2 linked regions of the Homo sapiens genome follow. The protein of the gene in region 1 interacts with the protein of each later gene in a pairwise test. Each region holds a gene or a part of one and is shown on either strand. Other genes may lie near its edges.

Region 1 (3,987 bases):
ATGTACTTAGAAATACACTACAGGTCTTCACCAGATGAACTAGATTTTATAATTTTAAAATATAATACTGAAAGCTAGTTTGAAGTTTCAGAAGCCATGAATTATGGGGAAGGAGTAGTTTTTTATTTTATTTTATTTTTCTGATCTCAAGTTGTTTGTCCTGTTGTATGTTCAATACTTGGGGAGATAAGAGCGAGGTACAGCTGTGGTTTTCAGACCATATTCAGTGGTGCCCCTGAGGGTCTCTTGTGAACAGAAGGGAAAAAGAGTGTGATGAAGGTGAACTCTGCCTATCTGAACCTCTGTCAACCTCCAGTCAGAATATCTGGCTTCTAGTATTGTTCCTTTTAACTGGAAGTCTCTGTGGCCATTAAAAACTTGGGAACGTTGGATTAAATGACCACTTTAGGACTTTAAACAGTCTCAAATATGGGAAATTTTATAGCCAACCACGGCTGTGAGTCCCTGGCTTTTGCCGTACTGAGTATGCTCACAGAGATAGGGAGATAGGTGGCCAGAAGACAGGGTCATTTAATTTTAATTGAGCATAAATCATTTTGAAAGAAAAATGCAAGGAATTGTTGTATGACAGCCATGCATTATAGATCCTTACATGCGACATTTTCCTAAAGTGGTTGAGAATGACCTGATCTTTGTTCACCGTCTCAGTGACAAGGCGTGGAGTGACTGGGCTCTTCATATGCAGTGGAATTTTTGCATCTCTAGGTTTGCAGAGGCAGGAGTTACCGTTTTTGTTCATTGACCTATCAGAAAAAAGCAAATCCTTTGGACAATGTTGACACAGACAGGGGTACGGTCTGAGACTCAAGCTAACAGAGCTACCCCTTGCTGCCTTTTGCAAAGGTGTTGTAGGTGGAGAAGGGTAATGGAAACCTGGTACAGCCTTTAGAAGTTGGAAGCTATGGTGGTGTATCTGTCATGAACTGCACACAAGGGAATGCTTAAACACCAGCTGAGTCATATCAGGTGCCTTGTACACACACATAAAGAGTCTGGTGAATTCTGACAGTGTTCTGTTTGCCACTAGAGCAAATTTAATAGCTGGGGTTTCACAGCAACTGTTTTAGAAAACTATATGTGCCAAAAATTTACATTGGGCAGCAGTTTATAGTGTTCTTGGCCAATCTGCATAAAAGCCACTTGAGGAGGTTTGATTAAGAAAATTGTGTTTATCTCCTGTATTACCTCTGTGTTTGATTTATTCTTTAGTCTCAAATTTATTTTCTGAGTGGACTGATTTTCTATATGAACTGAAATGATGTTTTAATAGAATAATAGGTATTTTTAGAGGAAAAGTATTTTTTTGTGTAATTTGCTTACACAACTAGGACATACTTCCTATGATACTGAATCATCAAATTGAGTCATTTAAAGCTGAAAGAGGTGTTAGGAATGTAGTTTCACATTATTTAAATACATGAACAGTTTTCTATATATTTTGTGAAAATCTTGATGAGACACTAGAATTTCTTTATGGAATTGAACTTTACAAGAATTTTAATAAAAGAGGTGGATTTCTTCAGCTTTCTTTGTGCTTCAGTTTCATAGCTGAAAATGCTGCTTCCGTTTATTAATATGGACTTTGTAAGGAAACACAACAACACGTTTTCTTACCTTCTGTAAATTTTGTGATAGACACATGTTATTTGTATATATGATTGATTGTTTGCCTGTTGCACCCTAAAGTTATTTTCAAACCATGTTTATTGCAAAGAGAGCCTTTGGGCAAGTGGAAAATGCCCTGATGCTAGAATGAGGTAGTTCCATAAGCTAGTTAGGAGCTTGCTACCTCTTCTTGGTACCTGAAATATTCTGAAAGGATATCGGAGAGGTCCTATGCACCCCTGTCTTTCAAAACCCACCTCCAGCACTTCAAAGTAGTGTCTCTGGAGAGTTTAAAATAAAAGAATGAATGCTATTCAGTGGATTCCCTCATTGAGGCTCCCATCTTTCCTGCCAGGTGCAGCTTTTTCTGGTTGGAATCATCTCTTCTTTACGGATTGCCGCATTGTCTCTTTGTGAATGAGGCAGGCTGAACTGTAGAGCATGAAACTCATTAGAAGTTTATAAAGTAAAGACCTGTAAAGCATGTGGGTGGAATGTTTCCATGCTCTTGAGGTGAATATTAAATTTAAATTCTGGCCTTTGGGAACTCTTTGCTTGTGAGCTGAAGAAGGAAAGAAGGAGTTGGGGGTGTATATCTAACTGTGTTTTTCTATATGGAAATATATGAGCATCAAGTGATAACTTCAATAAGGCCTCAGGATTGTATTTAAAATACCTGTTTTGTGGGACAGCATGCCTTTGTTTTCTTTGCCTGTTGGCTTTGGTGGCTCCAAACATTTTCATTTTAGGCTAGCTTTCCTGTCACCCAGGTTGTGTGCATTTTTTTTTTCATTTGAACTATTGTTTATCATTATTAATGATGTTATCTCCAAATCCCAAAGCCAAGGAAATAGCCAGTATGCAGGACTTGCAGTAGATATAAGCATTGGTGTTAACATAGGTTAAGTTTTGTTAGTGTTCCCAGAAATATACTGAATTGAGGGATAATGTAGCTTTAAAGAAATTATGTTTCTTTTTAACATTTGGAGAAGCCACCTGTCCTGGGTCCCTATTCTTGAGAAATTCATCTTTTCATGCAAATAACATTGATGGGGGACAAGACTGGATGATTGACTTCTATCAGTCAGTAGACAAGGAAGTATAATAATTGCCAAAGGTGAGGGTAATTTTGCCTTACAAGTATGTAGGTCATTCTGTGGTGGGATTTCCCATCACATCTAGTAAAAAACAACCTTTTCATTTCCCTCCTTTCTAATCCAAGATCATATTTTTAAAAAGTAGGTTTCTGATGTGCCATGAAATATTTCTGTGAATCTGTGTTTTTGACCAAGGAAACAGCTGAGATATTAAACCATGTGGTTGTTCCACGGTTCATCTGGCTACCGTTCTGGGTCCCCTCTGACCACCTCAAAAAGAAAATGAAATTGGGAGATTAAATCAAGCTTGACCTCCTCTTTTAATGAGGAACTTTCACGTTGACTTCCTATCTCAGGATATTCTTCAGTTTCATACTGCTGAGGAGAAAGGAACAAGCTGCAGACACTGTAACTGGTCTCCAGATGTGTGTATATGCGTGTAAAACTTCACACCGTGTGTGTTGTGTTCAATGTTGTGTCAATCTACAAACTGACTCAAACAACAGTTTAACGATAGAGAAGACAGTGATAATGGCAAAAAAAACACCCAACCACCTTTTTCCGTCAAAGTGCTTGCTATGGCTTTCATAGCTGGGACAAGTAACATTAAGTATTCAGGAGCAAAGTGTTCTTGAAAGAAAATGGTGTGTTGATCTCATAAGAAAATGTACAACCAATAAAAGACATTTTAAAAAGCGTAGTGAGTCTGTACATTAATTGAGTTGTTGGAAACCCTATATTCCAGGAACATGGTATAAAAGGCTCTCCCGGTAAAAGCTTTCCTGGACTATATATTCTTGTTATTCTTTCTCTATGCTTTTCCTATTTCTACCACCGCACTTCCCAAACAGACTAGAACAAAACCTAACAACACAACAGTATTGCAGTCGTATTAGTCTGTTTTCATGCTGCTGATAAAAACATAACTGAGACTGTGCAATTAACGAAAGAAAGTGGTTTAATGTACTCACAGTTCCACGTGGCTGGGGAGGCTTCACAATCACAGTGTAAGACGAAAGGCATGTCTCAACATGGTGGTAGACAAGAGGAGAGAGAGAGCCCAGCAAAAGGGTAACCCCTCATAAGACCCTCAAATCTCTTGAGACTTACTCACTCTCATGAGAACAGTATGAGGGAAACTGCCTCCATGATTCAATTATCTCCCACTGGGTCCCTCCCACAACACATGGGAATTATGGGAGCTAAAATAATTTGGGTGGGGACACAGCCAAACCATATCAGCCGCCCTGAAGACTCATTAGAA
Region 2 (3,818 bases), on another chromosome or scaffold:
GAACAGTTAAAATCAGGGTGAAAATCGGAGATGGTAGCATTTTCACAATTAGTGAAGGTCCAACCTACACTTCGGTTTACAAAGCACGTCCACGTGCATCACCTCTTTCTGATTTTAATTTTCCTAGCTGCTCTGAAAAGGCTGTAGGATGATGTATCAATAGGCTTGTTTTGGAGATGAAGAAGCTCGGGTTCAGAGAGGTTAAGCAGCCAATTAAAGGTCACTCACTGATATGCAGCAAAGCCTGACTTTTTGACTGTGAGCACAGGGCATATGCACTACATCGTACGTTATATAATCATCCGTTCCGTAGAACTCACCAGTAACATGTAACAACATCCTGAAAAAAGTTACCACGTGAGTCCACCTAGCGATTTAACTACTCTTGGCAAATTTGAGGTGAAGCACACCGAAAGGTCTTCCCAAGTGATCAGCTTTTTACCTAAGGTTTCTGATTGTCAAAACATGAACTCCTGACATCTCTCCCTTGGATGAGTAAGGTTCCAGGGTCTCTGCCATGGCCACTACCAAGAAAAAAAAAAACAAAAAACCAGTAGACACTGGCCAAGGCTGTTTAATAAGACAACAGCAAACCACTGCCTTTGGTTTATTAGGAAACTACAAAACAAATGGGCCAGTAGGAATGATGTATCAATTGTGGGATCCACGTGGTAGGCGGAATTGCAACGTTAAAGGCTGCGGCCAAAATCAAAACACCTCCACATGAACTGAGGGCATCAGAACCCAGCGCTCAGAAAGTAAAGCCTCACCGAAAGCCAACCAGGTTCCCTCCCGCGCCCAGTGGGGCAAACAGCTAGAGAAGCAAACAGCTAGAAGGCCATAAATGCCCTACAGTAAAAAAAAAAAAAAAAGAATTTCTTTGGTCTCCCTTACCACTAATCAAGGCAGGCAGCATATTTATCTTGACGTTGTTCCTTTAACCTGTATTTGCCCCCATCCCCCTCGAGATTTCCTCTTGGGCTTATCTCCAAGCCATCCTTTTCCTTAAAAGATTAAAGATTTGAACACAACCAGTGAGCAGTATATGTAATCTTCAAAGAGCACTTTAGCCATCATAAAGAATATTTTAACAGGCACTAATTTTTTTTGCCTTAACCACACCTGTCCTCATAAACCATTTATGAGTTTAGCAGAGAAAGCGAATATATAAAGCTCAGATAAAGAAAAAGCAACCCAGGAATGAAACTTCAGACTTTAGACTACTCAAGACCACCCCTCCTCCAAACTCCTGAACTAAAATGAAAGTTCCTACGGCCTTTTGCCTCTCCCCGGACATCTCCCAAAAGAGCTCCCCCATCTCCCTCCCCGGCTCAAGCCTCATCTTACCGGTGGCACACAGAGCAATGAAGGTCTGAGCATGCTTGCGGATCAGAGACAGCTTCTCCCGCTGCTGGGGCAGCTTGCGCAAGATGTGCTCAATGAAGTCATGAGGAGTGACAGCTGCCAGGTTCCACTTCAACTTCCCCAGCACCACCAGTTCCCACTCCTGGAGGGGAAGGCAGGAAGAGAAGAGGAGAATCTAAATTCCACAGGCTGACCTGGTGTAGGGGGCTGGGGGTTGGGCTCCAGACCAGTTTTAAGGCCGCTCATTAGGACGTGGCTGCTAGATTGTAAGGCGGGCCCATTTGTCAATGTGCCCCTGAAGCTTTGAAGTTGTTGACAGCTCTTCTTATGCTTCAAATGTCAGGCTCCACTGAAAATAATGAGAGCCCAGGTAGCTGTTGCCAAGATTCTATTTTCTTCTACTTCGTTTCCACTCCAGCTCCCCTTACCCCCTCCCAACCCTGACTTGCAGGCAATACTGCTTCCCGCCCACCCAGAAAGCTGAACCTACAATGAGATACGGCCAAGGTCATTGTGGCCCTTTCATGGTAATTTATTGTATATGTCTCTATCACCGAATTAATAGTCTTTTTAATCTTCATGGAAAAATGATGCACACAGATAAAGCTCAAAATAAGGTTCCTTGGCCCAACTCCTTGGCAACCAATTAGCTTGCTTTTACTTAGTGCCAAAAAGTGCCTTTATCTCTCTGCTGCTCAAACTCCCCTTTTACATATCAGGCAGAAATTCTGGGGATGTGACACTCAGCCCTTTCCCCTAAATGTTTCACAGGCCATTGTCATCATGACTAAAGGACCACATGGTCATTAGCAACCTCATTTTGCAGATGGAGGTGATCTGGGGCAAGGTGAGGGTGCCTGCTCAGTGTCACAGCATCCCTCAGTGCAAGTGTGGGGACCACACAACCCTGTCTCTTGGGTCTCTCACCAGCAACCCACCTGAAAAAGAACCTTGTTTCCCTCTTTCACTGAGATACTTACGGGAAACTGTGCTCAAAGGGAAACGGTCCAAAATAAAACATTAAAAATATCGTATGTGCTACCAGAAAATATGCCTATCCACTGAGCTGTCATCAGAAGAATGAGAGGCAGGGCCTGTTTGCCAATGCACCCTCTCTCCCATTCACCTGGAGAACCTGGAATCTCTTTCATTTGCTAAACCAGCAACCAGAGCACCAGTCCCACAGCTGTGGGGCTGGGGGTGATTCCCTTTCCCTCCCAGGCCTCAGCCTTCTCATTTGTAAAATAGGACTCTTCCAAATCCCAACTTCTGGGATAAAGGGAATAGGAAAAAGCCAAGTTTGTTTGTAGCAATATATTGCTTGGCTAGTCCTGGAAAGATTTGGGTGTCCTGAAGAACATCTCAATTCACCATCCTCTCGAAACAAATGAACCATATGAAGATGATTTTTCCTGCTCTCTCATGAGAAAAACAAATTGGTTCCCAATTCTAACAATGTTTTCTTCATAAGCTTTAAAATCTGCCTTGGCTTTCTGTGTACAGCCGGGGTAAAGCACCCCAATAAACTACTAAACCACCATCATCTTCAAAGATGGCTTGAAATGCCAGCCCTTCCTCTTCACAGGGTAATGCGAGTACGAACCACTGGTCTTGCACCGTTATTAAAGGAAGCAGATCTCCCAGAAGAAAGCACCTTTCTAGGCCTCTCGGACCAAACCAGAAGCAGCTAAAACCTGGCAGCGGTTCAAAGGTGAAGTCATTCAGGCCCCTCTCCACATTCTCGGCAATTCCTCCCCCAACCTTGTGCATGTCTTCCACTAGATGGCAGCAGAGCCCCAGAAAGGAAGGCTCCTCACAAAGAGCTCAGTTCAAGAAGCCAGCCTCAGCCCTGTGGACTTTGTGCGGGCCCTACCAGTGAGGAGGGGGAGGGGCGGGAAGGAGGGGGTGCTTTTCTGAACAGTGCAAAGAGGGGTGTGCAAACCACCGAAGGTGGGCCTTGGAGCCGCTATTCCATGCGGTACAGCTGCAATATGGTCGTCTTATATGTCAAGCTGCAGGGAAAAGGAGTTAGATCAGGTGGGAAAAAGGTTCCCTGGTAGAAAAGCAGAGATAAGACAGGATCCCTGGGGTTGTACAGAGGTCACAGTCCCACTGGAGGTAGGAACCCAGGCCTCGGACTCCTTCAGTGAAAGGCCACATTTTGACTTTGCTCAAAAGTCAATGAACTGATATTTAGTGAACAGCTATTATGTGTTGGTATCTTGAGACTTTGTAGATATAGAGGGCATTACCTTTGAACTCCAAGTTTTTAGGAGACACCACAGCCACATACCTATCATGTGAACACGTTCTCAGACTATTTTTGGAAATTTGGAATTTAATTAAAATATTATCACTGTTAATTAAAATATTCCATGCGTCCCCTACACACATGCATACACAATTGCAAATGAGTCTCACCAACCCAAATCTCCATGAGGATCTTATTCACA

Evidence for each region.
Region 2: the proteins of MAP2K6 (region 1) and CCND2 come close enough for resonance energy transfer, tested with the Homo sapiens proteins (one large-scale study listed by BioGRID).

The regions. Positions count from the first base shown.
Region 1 is NC_000017.11:69,550,443-69,554,429, forward strand, and holds the end of MAP2K6 (dual specificity mitogen-activated protein kinase kinase 6), read left to right. Parts: 3' UTR 1-3,423; downstream 3,424-3,987. UniProt on the Homo sapiens protein: Dual specificity protein kinase which acts as an essential component of the MAP kinase signal transduction pathway.
Region 2 is NC_000012.12:4,276,449-4,280,266, reverse strand, and holds part of CCND2 (G1/S-specific cyclin-D2), read right to left. Parts: intron 1,508-3,818; coding exon 1,348-1,507; intron 1-1,347. UniProt on the Homo sapiens protein: Regulatory component of the cyclin D2-CDK4 (DC) complex that phosphorylates and inhibits members of the retinoblastoma (RB) protein family including RB1 and regulates the cell-cycle during G(1)/S transition.